5 separate regions of the Homo sapiens genome follow, and regions 2, 3, 4 and 5 are each linked to region 1. The links come from fine-mapping of genetic effects on gene expression. A gene starts in region 1. Each other region holds a variant in brackets. All regions are shown on one strand. Distances are between the middles of the regions.

What was found. PIP is the estimated chance that this variant, and not a neighbour inherited with it, causes the effect. A credible set is the group of variants that fine-mapping cannot tell apart.
Region 2: its variant is the best candidate, but not a certain one, in a credible set for the expression of ADCY9 in whole blood (TOPMed, PIP 0.65).
Region 3: its variant is the best candidate, but not a certain one, in a credible set for the expression of ADCY9 in lung (TOPMed, PIP 0.63).
Region 4: its variant is the best candidate, but not a certain one, in a credible set for the expression of ADCY9 in monocytes (BLUEPRINT, PIP 0.57).
Region 5: its variant is the best candidate, but not a certain one, in a credible set for the expression of ADCY9 in cerebellar hemisphere (GTEx, PIP 0.73).

Annotation. Positions count from the first base shown.
Region 1 is chr16:4,114,057-4,118,173 of GRCh38, forward strand. It overlaps ADCY9 (adenylate cyclase 9), which reads right to left and starts at 2,386. Exons shown (of 11, transcript NM_001116.4): 1 at 1,634-2,386; 2 at 1-1,429. The coding sequence starts at 1,386. RefSeq lists a silencer at 2,524-2,593.
Region 2 is chr16:3,988,545-3,992,661 of GRCh38, forward strand. It overlaps ADCY9 (adenylate cyclase 9), which reads right to left. Exons shown (of 11, transcript NM_001116.4): 5 at 3,602-3,819; 6 at 450-552. LOC124903633 (a long non-coding RNA gene) reads left to right here and starts at 3,586. Exons shown (of 2, transcript XR_007064956.1): 1 at 3,586-4,117. The variant G/A (reference allele first, on the strand shown) is at 1,647.
Region 3 is chr16:4,002,497-4,006,613 of GRCh38, forward strand. All of the region lies in intron 3 of ADCY9 (adenylate cyclase 9), which reads right to left. Among named protein-coding and RNA genes, the nearest start is that of TRIDDENT, 54 kb to the left of the region's middle. The variant C/T (reference allele first, on the strand shown) is at 2,193.
Region 4 is chr16:4,024,768-4,028,884 of GRCh38, forward strand. The region is part of intron 2 of ADCY9 (adenylate cyclase 9); the gene reads right to left. Among named protein-coding and RNA genes, the nearest start is that of TRIDDENT, 76 kb to the left of the region's middle. RefSeq lists enhancers at 289-790, 791-1,290. The variant G/A (reference allele first, on the strand shown) is at 1,828.
Region 5 is chr16:4,140,239-4,144,355 of GRCh38, forward strand. No RefSeq gene overlaps it. Among named protein-coding and RNA genes, the nearest start is that of ADCY9, 26 kb to the left of the region's middle. The variant A/G (reference allele first, on the strand shown) is at 2,348.

The sequences.
Region 1 (4,117 bases):
GCAGCAGTAGGCATGGTCGGCCCGGGGCTCGGGACAGCCCGCCACGCAGTAGTAACAGTCTCCCAGGGTGCTGATTTTCTCACACTTGGTCTCCTCACACAGGCGGTCGAAGCGACCGAACAGATCGTTCAGGAGACCCACCAGGGCGTGGGCAGACTTGTTGGCACTCATCTTGGTGAAGCCCACGATATCTGCAAATAAAATACTGACTTCTTCGATCTGCTGCATCTTAAAAGGGCGGAAGGCTATAGGAGCTTTTTGGATGGAAGACTTTTTCTTCCTGTTCTTGGGGCTCGAGGTGGCATGCCTCTTGACAGAATTCTCACTCTCCTCATCTCCCTGCTTCATTAAGTCATCGGCTATGATTCTTGGCATCACGGAATGAATCATCCTCTCTTTGAGGGCTTTTTCCACTTCCAGGTCCTTCCCGTGCATAATGGATTGCCCCACCTTGAGGAAGGTGCTCCTGGACCTCACCTGGGACATGACGAACAGGTGGACCCCGATGGCGTGGATGCAGCCGTGGAGCAGCCCCCTGCTCAGCAGCTCCCAGTGCAGGGCCCCGGCTCCGGGCGAGGGGAAGCAGGCTTCATCCCGGAAATGGTAGCCAAAGGTCTCGAAAAGGACAGAGTAGGCCACCCCCAGACACAAACTCAGGTACAAAGGTAAGTGCATGACGGTATAGAGCAAAAAGAGCACTTCGATGCACATGGAGAAGCTCCCCACTTGAGATAAGCAAGTATCTGTGGGCCGGGCTGTGGCCGTAAGGTTGGAGCTGTCGCCGCGTCCTGAGACAGGCGTCAAGACCTGGAACTGCGCAGCCAGGGTCAGGGCGAACACCAGCAGGGTGAGAGCCAGCGAGGTCCACGCGTAATGCCGGGCGTACAGCTTGGTGAAGGTAAACAGAAAGAAGCCCACACACACCAGGAGGAAGCACAGCGCGGGGGCGACCATGACGATCAGTCTGGATCTCATGTGGACCGCAAAATAGATGCTCCACAGAAGGCAGGCGAAGCCGATGTAGAAGAGCGCATACCGGAACCGGCGCTGGGTCTGCGGGAAGCAGCGCTCCAGGCAGGCCTCCTCCAGGTTCACCGAGTCGAACTTGGGGTCCCACCAGCGGCTGGAGGCCCTCTCGAACAGCTGGGGCAGCTTCTTCTGCCTGCGCAGCCGGCCTCCGCCGCCCACTCGCCGGGGGACGCCCCCGGAGTCCCCAGAGCTGCTGCAGCTAGAGGAGATGCTGTATTTGCAGTGCTTGGGGTGGCTGTTGGAGGACAGCTGCTTGGGGTTGATCTTGACGCGCACGCTGTTGCTGTCCCCGCTGGAGTCGCAGCTCACCTCGGTGCTGTGGTGATGCAGCAGCTGCTGGTGGGGTGGGGAAGCCATGTTGTCGAGTCCCGGGGCCTGCCCCGGCCGGGGTCACCAGTACCTGCCAGCAAAACGGGGAGAGTTAGCGGCGCTCCCACCTAGGCATGCACGCCTAGAGGCCCGGGACCTGCTCCTGTCCTAAGGGGCGGCTCCAGCACGCGACCTGGACAGGCACCATCTGTTCCTGTGGTTCCCGGCTCAGCGGTGCTCCCACCGCCCCCACCGCCCCCACCTTCGAGGCGCACGAGAACCGCTCGGGACGGACCTAGAACGCCCGGGGGTCCCCGCCGCGTGGCCGCCGTGGCTCCGGGACCGCTTTGCTCGCTCGCCTTCCGCGCCTCTCGCCCCGAGGGTGGCCTCCGCGCCGCGCGGCTTCTCCTCCTCGCGCGCTCGCCTCCTCCAGCTGCGGCTCCGGAGGGAAGTTCAGACCTTGAGCGCTCCCAGCCCCGCGAGCCGCCTGCGCACAAACAACTCCGCTGGCGGCGCGGAGCCCTCCATCCTGCAGGAGCCGCGCTCCGATGCGTCAAAGGCGGCGCGCGGCCGGCCCCGGGCCCGGACCCCGACCCGGAGCAGCGAGCTTCGGCGGGCGCCCCCGGCTCGCGCTCCCCGGCCGCCCCCCGCGCTCCGGGCCGGCCCTGCCCGCGGCGGCGGGCGCTGGGGGTGGGGGCGCCCCGGGCTGCGAGTGCGCGGAGCCCGTCGGCGCGGCCCGTCTAGTGGGGCCTGCTTCCCCCCGAGTGCGCCGCCGCTCCCGCCGCGGCCGCAGCTGTCCCGGGACCGAGCGCGTGGAACCACGGACGCGGGCCCCTCGCCGGGCGGCGGTGCAGACGCTGCCGCAGAGCCGGGCTCCCGCGACGCCGGCCGGGACGCCCGCCCGCCCGCGCCCACGCCGGGGGCCGCCTCCCCGAGCTAGAGATGCGGCCGCCGCCGCGCCCGCCGCCGTGTCCCCCGCGGCCGCTGCCTCATGTCGGAAGAGCTGCCGCCGCCACCATCTCCGGCCCCTGCCCCGCCCGCTGTCACTGACAGACGCGCGCCCGCGCCGCCCCTCGCCCAGCCGCAGCGCGCACGCGCGGCCCGCGCTCGCCGCCACCGCCTCCTGGCCCCGGACACGCGCACGGGCCGCGCGCCGCCCCGCCTTGGTGCGCGCGCTGGGCTGGGGCTGCGGGGCGGGGCGGGGCGGGGCGGGGCGCGCGCTCGGCTCCGCCCCCCGCCCCGGGCGGCGCCGCTTCTAGGCGGCGGGCTGTGGCCGCTGTCCGCGCTCCGGGCGCTGTGGGCCCGCCCTCCCTCGGCGTCCCAGAGGCCGCGCGCCGCCCGGGGTCCCGACCCTGCGGAGAGACCTGAAGGCGCCTGCCGTGGAAGAAGCCGCTGGCCGCAACGTTTGGGAAATCAAAATGTTGCCTTCCCACTCGGCACGCCTTTGGGATAAATCGAAGTTTCCAACCGTTGGATTTCCCTCCCGGGAGGCTCCCCTTGCTCTGTAAGCAATGAATGCGGGCCCCGGGGCACTCGGCCTGCCCTGGACCTGCTCACGGGGCGACCTTCACGGGCCTAGCCTCCAAAGCTGGGCCCACCGACGACCACGTTCCCCCGCCCCAGGGGTAGTTTACCTTGCTGTCCTTGAGCCCTTCTCCCCCTCCTCATGAACTACTGCTTTTCCTTTTACACAAATGAGACTTTCAAAGGAGTCCGCGTCCCATAATGGCAGTTGTGCATTGGCCTCCATAAACATTGCCACGTGTAAATAAAATCCTATTCTCTCTAGCATGCAGATCCCGACCCCTTCTCCCCACACTCCACAGTGCCTCCTGCCAGTCACGGGGCTCTCTTCCATCCCCTCCCTCGCCTCCCAGGCCCAGCGCCGGGGCCCACACCAGGTCTCACTGTTGAATTAGAAAATAAAAGTAAAATGTGATCTGTCCATGCAATGGAATATTATTCGGCTACAAAAAGGAATGGAGCACCGATGCATGCTGCAGTGTGGAGGAACCCGGGAAACGTTATGCTAGTGAAAGAAGCCAAACAAAAAAGGCCACATAGCGTATGATTCCATCCAGATGAAATGTCTCGAATTGGCAAATCCGTAGAGGCGACACAGATTGGAGGTTGCCAGGTGCTAGGGGAGGAAGATAAGCAGCTTGGGGTTTCGTTTTAGGATGATGAAAAAGTCTAGAAATGATCCAACAGGATGAATCTACATACTGCCCTTGAATCATACACTTTAAAGTGGTTTAGGCCGGGAGCGGTGGCTCACGCCTGTAATCCCAGCACTTTGGGAGGCCGAGGTGGGCGGATCACCTGAGGTCGGGAGTTCGAGACCAGCCTGACCAACACGGAGAAACCCCATCTCTACTAAAAATACAAAAATTAGCCGGACGTGGTGGCACATGCCTGTAATCCCAGCTACTCGAGAGGCCGAGGCAGGAGAATTGCTTGAACCCGGGAGGCGGAGGTTGTGGTGAGCTGAGTTCGCACCATTACACTCCAGCCTGGGCAACAAGAGTGAAACTCCATCTCAAAAAATAATAATAAAATAAAATAAAGTGGTTTAAATGGTAAATGTTATGTTGAGTGTATTTTACCACAATAAAGGAGGAAAAAACTAAAAGCAACATATTGTGGTGGTATTCCTGCAGAAGTGTGTAATCTCAATCCAATCGCAAGAAAACACCAGACAAACCCAGATTGAGACCTGTTCTACAAAGTGATTAACCAGTACCCATCAAAAGTGTCCTTGGACACTTTGGGTCTTGAA
Region 2 (4,117 bases), 130 kb before region 1:
AGGTGGGGAGGGGTTCCTTTCCAGGGCAGGTGGGGGACCCCTTCCATGGCAGGTGGGGGGGGTTCCTTTACCAGGGCAGGTGTGGGGGCCCCTTCCAAGGCAGGTGGGGGGGTTTCCTTCCAGGGCAGGTTGGGGGTTTCCTTTCAGGACAGGTTGTGGTGGGGGGGCCCCTTCCAAGGCTGGGGATAGCCTGGAGATGCCACGGCAGAGGAAAGGGGCTAGTAATGGCGAGGCTGCGCTTTAAGACAAAGGACTAAAGAAAGGGTTTTTTTCCTCCTTTGCAAAGAGACATTTCATGTACAGTTGCCACTTAGGGTTTACAGAGTGTGGGAAATCAATGTTCGCCTTCGTGTTCCCATCCCTTGGTAAAGCACAAAACTAACAGTGAATGACCATGTGAGAACAACAAACACATTCTTTAGTAAAAGCGCAAGGAGAAATGAACGCACCTCTTCCTGATAGCTGGTCCTGTAGGATCGCTCCAGCTCCTGATCCAGGAAGTTCAGGCTGAACTGATTAATGGGCGGCTTAAAAAAGTAATCTTTCATCAGGCTAGAAGACACAACAAATGCAGTCGATCAATACCCAGCACCATAACTGTGCCAATGTTTTCAGATCATAATTAGCTACCAAAACGCTGCTCATTAGGTATATTACAACAGCTGCGTCTAAAAGCGCCTGTGGAACAGACGCCACTCAGCTGCCCCTTGTTAAAACAGATCTGTGGAAAGTCCTTCGCACCTCAAAGCATAATCATATTTTGTGTTTCACCTTCGTTAAAGAATGACCATCCACCATGATTATAGCACACATCATCAGAACCTTGGTTTTTTGGGGTTTTTTTTTTTTGAGGCAAGGTCTCACTCTGTCGCCCAGGCTGGAGTGCAATGGCGCAGCGATCTTGGCTCACTGCAATCTCCGCCTCCCAGGTTCAAGCAATTCTCCTGCCTCAGCCTCCTGAGTAGCTGGGATTACAGGCGCCTGCCACCGCACCCAGCTAATTTTTGTATTTTTTAGCAGACGCGGGGTTTCACCATGTTGGTCAGGCTGGTCTCGAACTCCTGGGCTCAAGAGATCCACCCATCTCGGCCTCCCAAAGTGCTGGGATGACAGCGTGAGCTGCTGAGGCTTGTTTTTGAAAACACATTCCTAATGTCTAGGATTAGGAGAAGATGAAGGCAGCTTTTCTGTTCTTTGAAACAATCTTTTGTGAAGAACACGCAGATCACTGTGCTGAGAGTACTTACATGGATTTGGAGGCTTCAAACGAAAACATAATTCAGAACCGGCGGTCCTGTCATTCAGAGCACTGACAGTAATTGCCACCGTAAAAGCTAACAGGTTGTTATCACAAAATTGTGTTTATAGTTAGCGTAATTTTGGTGCTATTGTCACATATGCAGATTGCATGTGAAACCTGCAGAATGATAAAGCTCAGTGATTTTAATAGCAGGGAAATCAACCCCGCTTTCCATGACTCTTTCATTCATTTATGAATTGCCAGCAAATAGTAATATCCTTTCTATACTGCAGAAAATTACTAGAAACTAAGGGAACGTTAACATGATTTCAGAAAGCAAATATAGCTGTGTTAGCCTCTCTCCCTCATACAGTGACTATCAGAAGTAAATTAGACGAGGCTGGGC[G/A]CGGTGGCTCATCCTTGTAATCCCCAGACCTTTGGGAGGCCGAGGCAAGCGGATCACCTGAGGTCAGGAGCTCGGGACCAGCCTGGCCAACATGGTGAACCCCCGTTTCTACAAAAAATACAAAAATTAGCCAGGCCTGGTGGCAGGTGCCTGTAATCCCAGCTACTCGGGTGGCTAAGGCAGGAGAATCACTTGAACCTGGGAGATGGAGGTTGCAATGAGCCAAGATGGCGCCACTGCATTACAGCCTGGGTGACACAGCAAGACTATGTCTCAAAAAAAAAAAAAAAGAGTAAATCAGGTGAAATATGTCAAGTGCCTCATGTGCCCCCCACACAAAGTACGGCTCATCACGTGTGTTCCTTCCTGTCCTTGCAGCACGGCGGACACTCTCCTTTCTGTGACAGGTATCCAGTAACTTCCAACATTCTCAGACTCAGAAGAGAAATAATTCTGTCCCAGGACACTGACCCTCTCTCCTCCCCTGACTCAGGGAGTGTGGACTGAGGGAAGAGCAACCACGCAGCTGCAGAGAGGATGTGCACAAGGCCACATTTTAGCAGTCAAGTGGCAGAAGCGACACTGCTATTAGCTGTGCTGCTCCATTTATTTCTTATTTGTTTTTTGAGATGGAGACTCGCTCTGTTGCCCAGGCTGGAGTTGCAGTGCTGCGATCTCAGCTCATTGCAGCCTCTGCCTCCTGGGTTCAAGCGATTCTCCTACCTCAGCCTCCTGAGTAGCTGGGATGACAGGCACCCGCCACCACGCCCAGCTAATTTTTGTACTTTTAGTAGAGACGGGGTTTCACCTTGTTGGCCAGGCTGGTCTTGAACCCCTGACTTCAGGTGATCTACCTGCCTCGGCCTCCCAAAGTGTTGGGATTATAGGCGTGAGCCACAGCGCCTGGCTGAAAATCACCCTTTGAGGCATTATAGTGAAGACAGAGGCAAGAATCATCAATGAATGTTAAATCTAGGGAATTCTGATGGGGAATGAAATATGTACAAGATCTTCAAGTATTTTCTCACAGATTGCTTATTAGTCATAAGAGGAATATAATAACCCTAGATGAGACAACCCGGCACCACCTTGCCTAATTAATCAAAATTAGTATCACTAATGAGGAACAGACGGGCACTGCGTGTCCCTGGAGAGGACACCCTGAGGAGGACACGGCATCCCTTCTGCAGTCTCTGCCTGGCCAGAGGGAGAGCCTGAATCTAACCAATCCAACTTCAGGAATATTTGATAAAAGGACTGGACCTGTATTTTTCAAAAATGTTACCATTAGGCCAGGCACAGGCTCACACCTGTAATCCCAGCACTTTAGGAGGCCGAGGCGGGCAGATCACCTGAGGCCAAGAGTTCGAGACCCGCCTGGCCAACATGTTAAAAACCCATCTCTACTAAAAACACAAAAATTAGCTGGGCATGGTTGTGTATGCCTGTAGTCCCAGCTACTTGAGAGACCTAGGCAGGAGAATTACTTGAACCTGGGAGGTGGAGGTTGCAGTGAGCCGAGATTGAGCCACTGCACTCCAGCCTGGGCAACACAGCAAGACCTAGTCCTTATAAAAAAAAAAAAAAAAAAAAAAAAAGCCAGGCGTGGTGGCTCACGCCTATAATCCCAGCACTCTGGGAGGGTGGGGTAGGTGGATCACCCGAGGTCAGGAGTATGGAGACCAGCCTGGCCAACATGATGAAACTCCATCTCTACTAAAAATACAAAACCTAGCCAGGCATGGTGGTGGGTGCCAGTAACCCCAGCTACTTGGGAGGCTGAGGCAGGAGCATCGTTTGAACCTGGGAGATAGAGGCTGCAGTGAGCCAAGATCGCGCCACTGCACTGCAGCCTGGATGACAGAGCGAGACTCAGTCTTAAAGAAAAGAAAAGAAAAAGGCAGAGAGGCTTCTGCCTGCAACCTTTGCTTTTTCCCAGACAGCCCCAGTCGTACCTGTCTTCTTTGATAACGTCCACAAAGTGGGCGTCCGTTTTCTCCCGGATGTTCTTGAACCTCAGCGGAAGGAGAGCCGACTGGTCCAGGCTCACCCCTGCCCACCTTCCCTTCTCCTGCAAGATCTCACACAGAGAAGTCTGACTGTTGGTGAGCTTCTCCTCTTGGGGAGGGCTGAGGAGCCCGTTCTGAGTTTTGGGATTAGGTCCTCCAGAAGCCTGCCTCGAGACAAAGAGGACGCAGACACGGGAAGTGAAGTGGCACCGGGCACTGGGCACACACGCCTGTCCCACCCCGACCTCCGCTGCGGGGCGCTGCTGCACTGGGCGTGGGACTTTCTGACCTGCGAGGAACCCCCACCCCCCTGCGCCTACAGACCTGCTCCAATCCCAGCCCTGACTGCCCGTCTGCTCCTTCCTGTTACCCAACAGTGCCCAGTGGTAACGCTGGGTGTTCAGGCTGCCAGGACATTGAGACATGGGAAGAGTCGGTGCGGAGGTGGAGGGGAAGGGAGGA
Region 3 (4,117 bases), 110 kb before region 1:
TGGGTAAATCTACATCACTAGCTTCATTACTGACTGGTCCATGTAGAAACACCCAGTGGCCAAGCAGCCCGGGGTTCTGAATAATAGATGAAGGTAAACTCAGGAAGACCAGCCACGCAGGTGCGCTCCAGGGAGGCCTTTCAGAGATGTACTAAGATGCTTTCACAGCTCAAATGGTTCCCTGATCAGAAGTAATGTGATACAAGTAATTCAATTTTGGGTTTTCTTTTCTTTTCGAGATGGAGTCTCACTCTATTGCCCAGTCTGAAGTGCAGTGGCGTGGTCTCAGCTCACTGCAACCTTCACCTACTAGGTTCAAGGGATCCTCCTGCCTCAGCCTCCTGAGTGGCTTAGGACTACAGGCATATGCCACCACACCTGGCTAATTTTTGTATTTTTAGTAGAGATGGGGTTTCACCATGTTGGCCAGGCTGGCCTTGAACTCCTGACCGCAGGTGATCTCTCTGCCTCGGCCTCCCAAAGTGTTGGGATTACAGGCATGAGCCACTGAGCCCAGTTGGGTTTTCTTTTTCTTCATGAAGATGTTGGAAAAGCTGTTTTTATTGATATATGGCATCTAGATCCACTCATCACCCACAGGGTTCATGAGAAAATGGAAAGCAAATGCCTGCTGGAGCGCTGACGTCACATTCAACAGGCCAAGGCACACATGCTCCCGTGTCATACAAGTGACTTGGTTACGGCCGAGAGCATCCAACCCACAGCAATGCTCAGCCGCAATCACTGTGAGAATCTCCCTCGAATCGGAACCGTGGAGAAGATGGGACCTTCCCCAGAGAGTCAGTGACTTCCTGCAGGCAAGCTGGGACCGTCTCTCGGCCCCTCCCAGTCCTCCATGGCTCCGTCTGTGGTCACTGTCCCTGCTCTGCGTGGAGTGAAGGCGTGCGTGCCGAGTGTGAGCGAGGCTTCTTCTCAGCCCTGGCGTCCACAGGCACCATTCCGGCTCATCTCCCAGCAATCCCGAGAGGTCTCTTCCTTATCACCACCGCACTGAAGAGGAAAACTCTCACTTAGAGGAATTAAGTGTGTGTTTGCTCTTTCTTTTCTTTTTTTTTTTTTTTTTTTGAGACAGTGTCTCATTCTGTCACCCTGGTTGGAGTGCAGTGGCATCATCACAGCTCACTGCAGCCTCTAACTCCTGGGCTCAAGCGATCTTCCTGCCTCAGCTGTCTGAGTGGCTAGGACTACAGGCATGAGCCACTGCACCTGGCTGCAGTTTCTTCACAGTCGCAAAGCCAAGGCTTGAGAAGGGTCTTGCTTCAAGTTGCGCCCCTGCCCGCCGTGGTCCGCCTCCCCTCCGCGACGCTGACAGTGGCGTCCTCATGTCTAATGCTTACTCCTTGGTTTCCTTCTTGACCTCTCCTTCCTTCACTCGGGCAGTATCTGTCCCCCACATTATGCAATGTCAGGGCCCTTAGGATGAGGACCTCTCACTGCTGGTCATTTCAAGAACCCAAGGCCAGGCACAGTGGCTCATGACTGTAATCCCAGCATTTTAAGAGGCCAAGGCAGGAGGATGGTATAACCCCAGGAGTTGGCAACCATCCTGGGCAATATAGCAAAAAAAAAAAAATTTAAAAATTAGCTAGGCATAGTGGCACATGCCTGTGGTCCTAGCTACTCAGCAGGTTGACTTGGGAGGATCACTTGAGCCTGAGAGTTTCGAGCTGCAGTGAGCTAAGATCATACCACTGGTACTCTAGCCTGGGCAACAGAGCGAGATCCCATCTCTTTAAAAAAAAAAAAAAAAAAAAAAGAAGCCAACACTTGGGTGTAGAAAGGGTTCCCTTTGAGCTATGACTTCAGGACCAAAGCCCTGGCCTTTGACATCACTATCATTTCCTGGTAGGTCGTTACAGTACACAGGTTATGTTACATTAGATAAGAATTTTCCAGCTATGACCTAGGAGATGACTTAAGGTCACAGAGGACACACATGCTAAGGGCAGGAAATAAACCCTTCGTGGGCGCTGCCCTGGTTCTACACAGTTCTGCTCGGGCTTCTGACTTCAGTCCTTCGCCTGGCTCTGCAGAGCTGCATCGCTCCATGTGTTTAATTAAAGAATTAAAAAGCCAAAAAGAAACTGTTAATTACTACATGCCAGGCACCATGCTCGACACTTGGGAAATATTTAAGTTATTTAACACTCAGTCTCTGAATGCAAAGAGCT[C/T]CCAGGAAGACGCATAAGAAACAAAGATTTAAGATCGTGTATGTTACAGCCAAGTGGGACAGACTGAAGGGACTGAGAATTTGGAGACGAGGGAACAGCGTTATCAGCTGCGGAGGCACGGGAAGGCGTGGTGGAGCTGAACGGTGAATGCAGACAGGAGTTCAGGGGAAAGAGAAGCCATGAGTATCTCAAGTGAGCAGCAGCAGGAACAGGACACACGTGAAAATCTACGCATGCTCCTTCAGGGAACGTTTCCTGAACACCTTTTCTCTAATGTATTGGTCCTTGGCATGAAACTCCTTTTACTACATGAGCATTCCCCCAAAAGGTGTGACCACATTAGCCCTGCAAGGTGCAGCTTGAAAAAAAACAATTGTGCTCAAAGAGGCCTGAGAATGCTGTATATACCGCGTCCTCCTCTGAAGGCCTAGCTACTGTCTACTAGCCTAGTGAAGGCTCCGAGAAGTCCTGCAGTAAAGAAACCCTTTCTGTGTTGAATATCCCAAGCTTCCCGAATTTACTTTACCACTGAGCACCCTCCTCCCTTTTTTTGGAGACAGGACAAGGTCTCACTCTGTGGCCTAAGCTGGAGTGCAGTGGCAAAATCATAGCTCATGCAGCCTAAATTCCTGGGCTCAAGTGATCCTCTTGGCTCAGCCTCCCAAGTAGCTGGGACCGCAGGCACAGGCCACCAAGCCCAGTTAATTTTTAAAATTTTTTTGTAGAGATGATGTCTTGCTACGATGACCAGGCTGGTCTGGAAATCCTAGCCTCAGGCATCCCTCCCACCTCGGCCGCCCACAGCACCAGGATTACAGGCGTGAGCCACCATGCCCGGCCTTCTGTCAACTTGATAGATCACAAGATTCTCAGAAACTTTCAACAATATTTGGAAAATCTCCACATGCCAAGAAGATACGCTAAATGGTTTTTGCTCATTCCGACCAAAACAAATATATATGACTAGAGTGCAATGTAGTGTAGAATCGCCATTGCTAAAACCGTGGTCACTAAACCCGTGAGCATGTGATATGGTGAACTCTGCGACCGCATCCCCTAACGGACAGAAACACACATATGTGGAAGCTAAAATGGCAAACACAACGAATTATATATTTTTGGCTCGGGGCTGTCTTTCACGACTTAAATACAGCTCAGTTTGCAGGCTGGAGGAAACAATTCTTCCCCAAATAGCAAAACCATTCCCGATTCCACCCCACGCCAGCCCCTCCCTGCCCGGGTCCGCTGTCTAGGAGCCCAGAGCTCCATTTTCTGACTCCTGCACAACGTCAGCCCAGGCAAGGCGGCTGTCTCTAAAGTTTGCAGGCATCCAGGGAATCTCAGATACATGAGCTTTACACATGTGCCAAGAGTACAGGGAAGAGAGGGTCCAACACCACTGTCCCGGTGGTTTTCACCCAGGGGTGACTCTGCACCCCCAGGGGACACTGGGCCATGTCTGGAGACATTTTTGGTTGGCACAGCTGGGGAGTAGGGTACGGGTGGGTATGCTGCCATCTGGCAGGTGGCGGCTAGGGATGCTGCCAGCCATCTGACAGTGCACAGGACAGCCCCACAACACATGACTACCTGGTCCAAAATGCCAGCGGTGCCAAGGTGAGAAGCCCTGCATTACACTAACAAAGCACCCAACGACCGCGATCCACGAGCGGAGTTGACAGAACCCGAGTGCAATCATTACGTGTAACTGGGCGACAGGCACTATGTATTCTGACCCAGTAAGTAATCTGCATACCCCAGCTGACTGCCACATAATGAAGACTGTTCCTCGTAAATACCAATAGCGGCTTTCAAACCTGTGAATGAATGTGGAGAGGCAGGGACGTATTGGGTGAAGCTGTAACCACTGGCCGCCATCCTCACACATACCCCACTGTGTTATCTGAGAACACAAAGCAGCATAG
Region 4 (4,117 bases), 89 kb before region 1:
GTTCTGCCTTCAGTACGTGGACGGATGAGTGAGACCAGAAGAAGTAAAAGTTTAGGGGGCAAAATCAGGAGCTCAGTTCTGGACCTCCCAAGCTGAAGATGCTGGTGACACGCTCAAGCGATAGGGACAAGGAGGTGGCCATACCATGAAATCAGAAGGGAGCTCAGGGCCAGAGATCCACTGTCCATAATATCACCAGGGAGAAGACAGCAGGTGGGGAGGCCTGGGAAGCAGCCTTGGAGCTGCAATGTTTTGAACGGCCAGGGAAGTGGGCCAGCAGGGCTCTGAGGAGGGACAAAGGGGTAGGGAGGGGGGCTGGGTGTGATGGCTAAAGCCTGTAATCCCAGCACTTTGAGAGGCCGAGGCGGGTGGATCACCTGAGCTCAGGAGTTTGAGACCAGCCTGGCTAACATGGTGAAACCCCCGTCTCTATTAAAAAATATATATATACAAAAATTAGCCAGGCATGGTGGTGTATGACTGTAATCCCAGCTACTCAGGAGGCTGAGGCAGGAGAATTGCCTTGAACCCGGGAGGTGGAGGTTGCAGTGAGCGGACATTGGTGCCACTGCACTCCAGCCAGGGCAACAGAGCAAGACTCTGTCTCCAAAAAAAAAAAAAAAGAAGTGGATCACTGTGAACGCTGCAGAGAGAAGATGAGGCCACTAGCAAAGCCAGCCTGGGTTTGGCCACTGGCCACGCAAAGACTGTCAGTGACCACACCAGGGAGAGGTGCGTTTGGGCGGCGAAGAGCACAGGCCAGGCTGGCAGGTTGGTGTGCGAGTGTGTGCAAGGTGGAGAAGGCACACGCGGTCAGTCCTTTGGAGAAGTCTGGCACGAGGCCTGCCGAGGAAATGGCCCGGGGGTGTGGCAGGGCGGAGGTCCTGTGCCATGTCCTGCACTGACCAGGGCAGCCCACGGGAAGGCAGCTGCAGAGAAGGCAGAACCCGCAGCTCCAGAAGGTTTGGGGCATGACCAGCAGAGGCCAACTTCTATTGTGAAGAAGAAACCGACTCCCAGACTTTCAGGGAAGGGGGTGTGTTTGGTCTGGTGGCAGTGGGGACAGCAAAGTAGGACCCTTGGGTGTGGCTACGATTGAGAGGATGTCAGGTAGTGTGAGATTCAGGCTGGTGTAGAATCACTCATGAGAAAGTATCTAAAATCTTCCAGATGACAGTGCTACCAGCTGGACAGCTGACAGTGGGCGCTGGCTCTTTCAAAACAGTGCTCCAAAGGCAAAGAAATAGCAAAGACAGAAGTAAGGCACTTAACTATTTGTTGGGTGAATATAGAAATGAATGAATGAATGGATGGATGAGCAGATACATCAAGAAGTTAATTCACAAATTAAAGCCCATTATGAAACTAAAGTAGAGGCTGGGCGCGGTGGATCACGCCTATAATCCCAGCACTTTGGGAGGTCAAGGCAGGTGGATCACCTGAGGTCAGGAGTCTGAGACCAGCGTAGGCAACATGGTGAAACCCTGTCTCTACTAAAAATACAAAAATTAGCTGGGCATGGTGGCGTCACCTGTAGTCCCAGCTACTCGGGAGGCTGAGACAGGAGAACTACTTGAACCCGGGAGGCGGACATTGCAGTGAGCTGAGATCACGCCATTGCACTCCAGCCTGAGCCAACAACAGCAAGACTCCGTCTCAAAAAAAAAAAAAAAAAAAAAGTTAATCCTGCAATGACCATACACCCAGAAACCCCAATCATGGATATTTACCCTAGAGAAATCAAACCTTATGTTTACAAAAAACGCTGTACGCAAATGTTTGTAGCGGCACTATTCATAATTGCCAAAACCTGGAAACCAACCTAAT[G/A]TCCTTCCCAGGATGAATGGATAAACACACTGTGGTCCCTCCCCACAATGGGGCACTACTCAGCATCACAAGGAATGAACTAGAGACCCATGCAGCATCCAGGACGAATCTCAATAGCTCTAGACTAAGTGGAAGAAACCAGTCTTCAAAGGGTACATGCTGTGTGGTTCCATTTTAATGACAGGCTCCCAAAGGCAAAACTACAGGGAATGGATAGTTGTTGCTGGGTCGGCAGGGGCCTGGAGGCAGGGAACTTAAGGCCGATTCACCCTGACTTTTTAGAACTGAATCAAAAGGAAAACCATACCCAGGTAACAAAAGGATCAGAGGCTACTACTCCCTTTGCACCTCGTGGCAGATGAAAAATGGAAAGTACCTCTGATTGGTTCCCTCCCGCAACCAACCAGACTGGTCCCAGGCCAGGTCTTCAGGTGTAACGTTGCAACTTCACTTCAACCTCTGATTGGTCGCCTCCTGCAACCAATCAGACTGGTCACAGGCCACTCCTTCACTTACATAGGGTGTAACCAAGTAACCAATGGTAAACCTCTACAGGGTATTAAGGCTCCAGAAAATTCTCTAATCAGCCACTTGCTCCTGCTCGAGCCTGCTCCCACTCCGTGGAGTGTACTTTCATTTCAGTAAATCTGTGCTTCCCTTGCTTCGTTTTCTCGTTGCTTTCTTTGTGCATTTTGTCCAATTCTTTGTTCAAAATGCCAAGAATCTGGTTAAGAACCCAGACAACTTGTAGTCAAGACCCTCCACTGGTAACACCCATAAAGGGTGTATTAGTCTGTTTTCACACTGTTCATAAAGACTTTATAATTATCCGAGACTGGGTAATTACGAAGGAAAGGTTTAACTGGCTTGCAGTTCCCCATGGCTAGGGAGGCCTCACAATCATGGCAGAGGGCAAGGAGGAGCAAGTCACGTCTTCCATGACGGCAGGGAAGAGAGAGAGTGTGTGCAGGGGAACTCCTCTTTATAAAACCATCAGATCAACTGGACGTGGTGGCTCACGCCTGTAATCCCAGCACTGTGGGAGGCCGAGGTGGGCATATCACCTGAGCTCAAGAGTTCGAGACCAGCCTGGCCAACATGGTGAAACCCCATCTCTACTAGTAAAACAAAAATTAGCTGGGTGTGGTGGTCCATGCCTGTAATCCCAGCTACTTGGGAGGCTGAGGCAGGAGAATCGCTTGAACCCAGGAGGCAGAGGTTGTGGTGAGCCAAGATCATGCCATTGCACTCCAGCCTGGGTGACAAGAGCAAAATTCCGTTTCAAAAAAAAAAAAAAGAAAAAAAACCCATCAGATCTCGTGAGACTTATTCACTATCACGAGAACAGCATGGGAATGACCTGCCCCCACGATTCAATTACCTCCCACTGGGTCCCTCCCACAACATGTGGGAATTGTGGGAGTCACAATTCAAGATGAGATTTGGGTGGGGACACAGCCAAATCATATTAAAAGGTCAACCCTTGGGAAAGATTTTTGGGGGGTGATTAAACTGTTCTGTATCCTGATTGTACTGGTGGCTACAAAACCTATACATGTGTTATGATCCTTAGAACCGTATAGCAAGAGAAAAAAGTCAGTTCACAAATGATAATTAGCAAAATAAAATTATACGTTACCATACAATCTTGCAATTCCAATCCAAGCCTCTACTCACGAGAAATGGAAACAACTAAGACTTGCAAGCGATGTTCAGAGCAGCTCTGTTTATTACAGCCAAGACGTGGGAATAATCCACGTGTCCAGCAGCTGGTGAATGGATGGACACACTGTGATATATCCACACCACCGAATTTAACTCACGAAAAAGGACCTAAATACTTGATCTGTGCTACAATACAGAAGAACCTCAAAAACAATAAGCTAATTGAGAAGTCAGCTACAAAAGACTACAATAGTGCATGATTCCAATTATATGAAATGTCTAGAAAAAGCAAATCTATAGACACAGAAAGTAGATTTGTGGTTTGGGACTGGAAGCAGGTATTGCCTGAAACCAGATATGATGGACCTCATGGGATGATGGAAATGTTCTAAAACCAGATGATACCCTAAATTTTCTAAAAATAAAATTGTATACTTTTCACAGCTGAGCTTCATAGTGTGCAAATGATACCTTAGTAAAACTGTCTTTAATAAAAAGTGCTCAATTCGTTATCTATTTTCTTTTTTTCTTTTTTTTTTCTTTGAGATGGAGTCTTGCTCTGTCACCCAAGCTAGAGTGCAGTGGCGCGATCTCGGCTCACTGCAACCTCTGCCTCCCGGGTTCA
Region 5 (4,117 bases), 26 kb after region 1:
GGAACAGAAAAATGAGAAGAGCCTGGGTTCTTGATGGCATCAATAGTCATTAATACTGATATGGTTTGGATCTGTGTCCCCACCCAAATCTCATGTTGAAATGTAATCCCCAGTGCTGGAGGTAGGGTCTGGTGGGAGGTGATTAGATCATGGGGCGGTTTCTCATAGTTTAACACCATCTCGCTTTGGTGCTGTTGTTATGATAGTGACAGTGATCGGTGGAGCAGGAACAAGAGAGACAGCACCTCCCCTCTCTCTTTCTCCTGCTTCTGCTTCAACCATGTAGGACAAGCCTGCTTCGCTTCACCTTCCACCATGATTGGAGGTTTCCTAAGGCCTCCCTGGAAGCTGAGCAGATGGCAGCACCACGCTTCCTGTACAGTCTATGGAACTGTGAACAAATTCAATCTCTTTTCTTTATAAATTACCCAGCCTCAGGCATTTCTTTATAGCAATGTGAGAATGAACCAATACAGATACCAGCACCAAAGTGCCTACCGTGAACTTTTTCCTACCCAGGAAAAAGGAATTCTTTATTATCATCAGCCTCTAAAACAGGGCTTTCTGTTACTTGCCTCTGTATGAACTCCAAACTGACACGCTATCTAATTTATGCTGAGAGCACAGCTAGGGAACATGCCCAGGCATGCGGCTTTTACCTACTGAGCTGGACAAGATTGTGGAAGTGAAAGTAAAATTTGAAGATTGGATGAAAGATGTTAAAATCATGGGAAGGCTGAATAATTTGAGAATACTCAGACATCTCATAGGTGAGGAAAATGACAGTATTAACATTAATACAAAGAAGGTGATCAGTCAAAACATTCCTCACGAGAAAAGGTCCTTTGGCAAATACTTTCCTTTAAAGTAAATGAATATAACAGGCCAGGCACAGGGCTCACGCCTGTAATCCCAGCACTTTGGGAGGCTGAGGTGGGCGGATCACCTGAGGTCAGGAATTGGAGACCAGCCTGGCCAACATGGCAAAACCCCATCTCTACTAAAAAATACAAAAATTAGTCAGGAGTTGTGGCGCACACCTGTAGTCCCAGCTACTTGGGAGGCTGAGGTGGGAGAATCGCTTGAATCTGGGAGTCGGAGGTTGCAGTGAGCTGAGATCTCACCACTGCACTCCAGCCTGGGCGGCAGAGTGAGACTCCACCACAGCCAAAAAAAAAAAAAAAAGAAAGAAAAAGTGAATGAGACTGACTAGTTAATCAAGCCTTTCCAGCCTTCCACATGAGCCCAATAAATTGACCTCTCAGCCTGAAGACGCATCTGTGGAAATTTCCACCAATGATAACCTGAAGAGTTTGCTCCTGCCGCCTCGTGGGCAGCACGCCAGGCGTCTTCCCTCAGTAGTTAAGTCAACCTGGCTCATAAAGCAATGGAACAAATGCGATTTGTGTCCCCATATCTTGCGGAAGCCAAAGTAGAGAAAATAGCCTAGATCTTTTCACCGATTTTCTGCGTCAATCCTCTTTGATTAAGTATCCGCGCTATCCACTTCAATGAAGCTATGGCCCCATGAATAATACTGTGGTCTGTTGCCATACTCATAATGGAAGGACATAAAAATGTCCCTATTTGGAATTCATAAAAATGAAGATGCAATTTTTTTCCATCCAAAAATGGCTAATAGAGGTTCGTGAGTTGTCTCCATTTTCCTCCCTCAACGGTCCGTTCCTGAGCAAATCATTTCTTTGGGCTCTATCACATTTACGTCGTTCATACATGATACCCAAGCAGGTGCGAGAATGCACCATCTTTCATTGATGAAAATGATCCAATTGGCCAGGCGCGGTGGCTCACGCCTGTAATCCCAGCACCTTGGGAGGCTGAAGCAGGCAGATTGCTTGAGCCCAGGAGTTCGAGACCAGCCTGGACAACATGGCAAAACCCCATCTCTGTTTTTTAAAAATATATTTATTTAAAAGAAATAATAATAAAATGATCCAATTGCCTTCCAAACTGCTTTTCCAGGAAGCAGTTGGATGGATCATGTTGAGATGGTGTGGTTTCTGTGGCAACAAGTCAAACTGTGACACCCAAAGGATTAGACTTCTCACCTGGGCCCCAATATGGTAACCCATGAAAGAACCAGCCTTAGGCTTCCACGACGTCAACACTCATGCTTGCTGCCACCTCCAAGCCCCACCCATCCCCTCTGCCCTTGGTTCCACACCCCCAGCTACACGCTGACAAAGATGCTGGGCTAGAGACACCCAGCTCGCCAGACACACCCAGGATGCTCTCACCACTTCCCAGAGCCAAATGCCCTGGCTGCAAAACAGAGAAGCGAAACCTAGAAATAATCAAGGCTTGTTTCCAGACCTTCAGAGTTCTC[A/G]CACCCTGCCCTGTCTTGTGTGTGTGTAGATACAGATATAGACAAGATATCATCTGTAGGTAGAGATGTAAATATAGACATAGCTCAGCTATTACTCGGGAGGCCGAGGCATGACAATCGCTTGAACCTAGGAGGCAGAGGTTACAGTGAGCCAAGATTGCACCACCGCACTCCAGCCTGGGCAACAGAGTGAGACTCCGTCTCGAAAAAAAAAAAAAGATGTATCTCAGCTAGACACTTTACACAGATTTTCTGATTTAATCCTATCAATGTGAGAAGTATTATCTGTTTTATTGATGAGAAAAACAGATTTACAGAGTTTCGTTTGTTCATTTTTTTGGTGGGTGGACAGTGTCTTGCTCTGTTGCCCAGGCTGGTGTGCAGTGGTGTGATCACGGCTCACTGCAGCCTCAAACTACTGGACTCAAGAGATCCTCCTGTCTCAGCTTCCCAAGTACCTGGGACCACAGGCATATGCCACCATGCCTGGCTATTTTTTTTTTATTTTGTTTTGTAGAGATGGGGTCTTGCTATGTTGCCCAGGCTGGACTCAAACTCCTGGCCCCAAGCAATCCACCTGCCTTGGCCTCCCAAAGTGTTGGGATTACAGGCATAAGCCACCGTGCTCGGCCCCAAGAGATTTTTTTCTTCAACCTTACCAAGCTCACCAGCTGACAGGAGGTAAAGGTGAGGGTCGCAGTGGCTTTGAGGACTCCGCAGTCACCACGGTGCACTCCTTCCATCTCACTTTCATCAAGCACCTAGAGCCCCACCCTAGGCCATGTCAGGTCTCCTGCTATTTCTCAGGCTGGCCCGACACCGTCACGACTCCATCTCTGTATCCAGGGCTGGCACCAGGTTCCTCTCCCAAGGCTCTCTCCCTGCTTCTTTTGAGATCCTCCTCATATAAGAGGCTTCAGATAAGTGCCGCCTCGGATGCCAGGCCGGATGTTCTGCCGGAAGCTTCACTCACCGAGTCAGAGGTTCATGGGCTGGCTCTTGATCCTCACCCTCAGAACCTAGTTCTGAAAGAGTAGGCATGTGAGTGATTCTATTTTTTTTTTTTTACAGACGGGATCTTGCTATGTTGCCCAGGCTGGTCTCAAACTCCTGACCTCAAGTGTTCCTCCACGGCCTCCCAAGTGGTGGGATCATTGACTTTATATCTTCAAGTTTAGCTCAGGAGGCTCCGACAGAGCAGGCAGCCAAGGCATGCTGGTTGAATAAATGAACAAACTCAGCAATGTTTTTGCACCCCACAAACACTGGTGGACAGTATCACCTTTGAAAAATCATTGATTATATCATAATTGCAAAAATTTAGGTCACCAACTAGATTACAAACACACGATTTTGATAAAATATATGTAACCTAAAATTTACCATTGTAACCATTTTTAAAATGTGCAATTCAGTGACATTAAGTATATTCACATTGTTGGCCGCGCGTGGTGGCTCACGCCTGTAATCCAGCACTTTGGTAGGCCGAAGCTGGTGGATCTCTTGAGGCCAGGAGTTAGAGACCAGCCTGGCCAACATGGTGAAACCCCATCTCTACTAAAATACAAAAATTAGCCAGGTGTGGTGGCACTCGCCTGTAATCCCAGCTACTCCGGAGGCTGAGGCAGGAGAATCACTTGAACCTGGGAGGCAGAGGTCGCAGTGACCCGAGATCGCACCACTGCGCTCCAGCCTGGGTGACAGAGAGAGACTCCATATCAAAAAAAAAAAAAAAGAAAAAGTATATTCACATTGTTGTGCAACCATCAC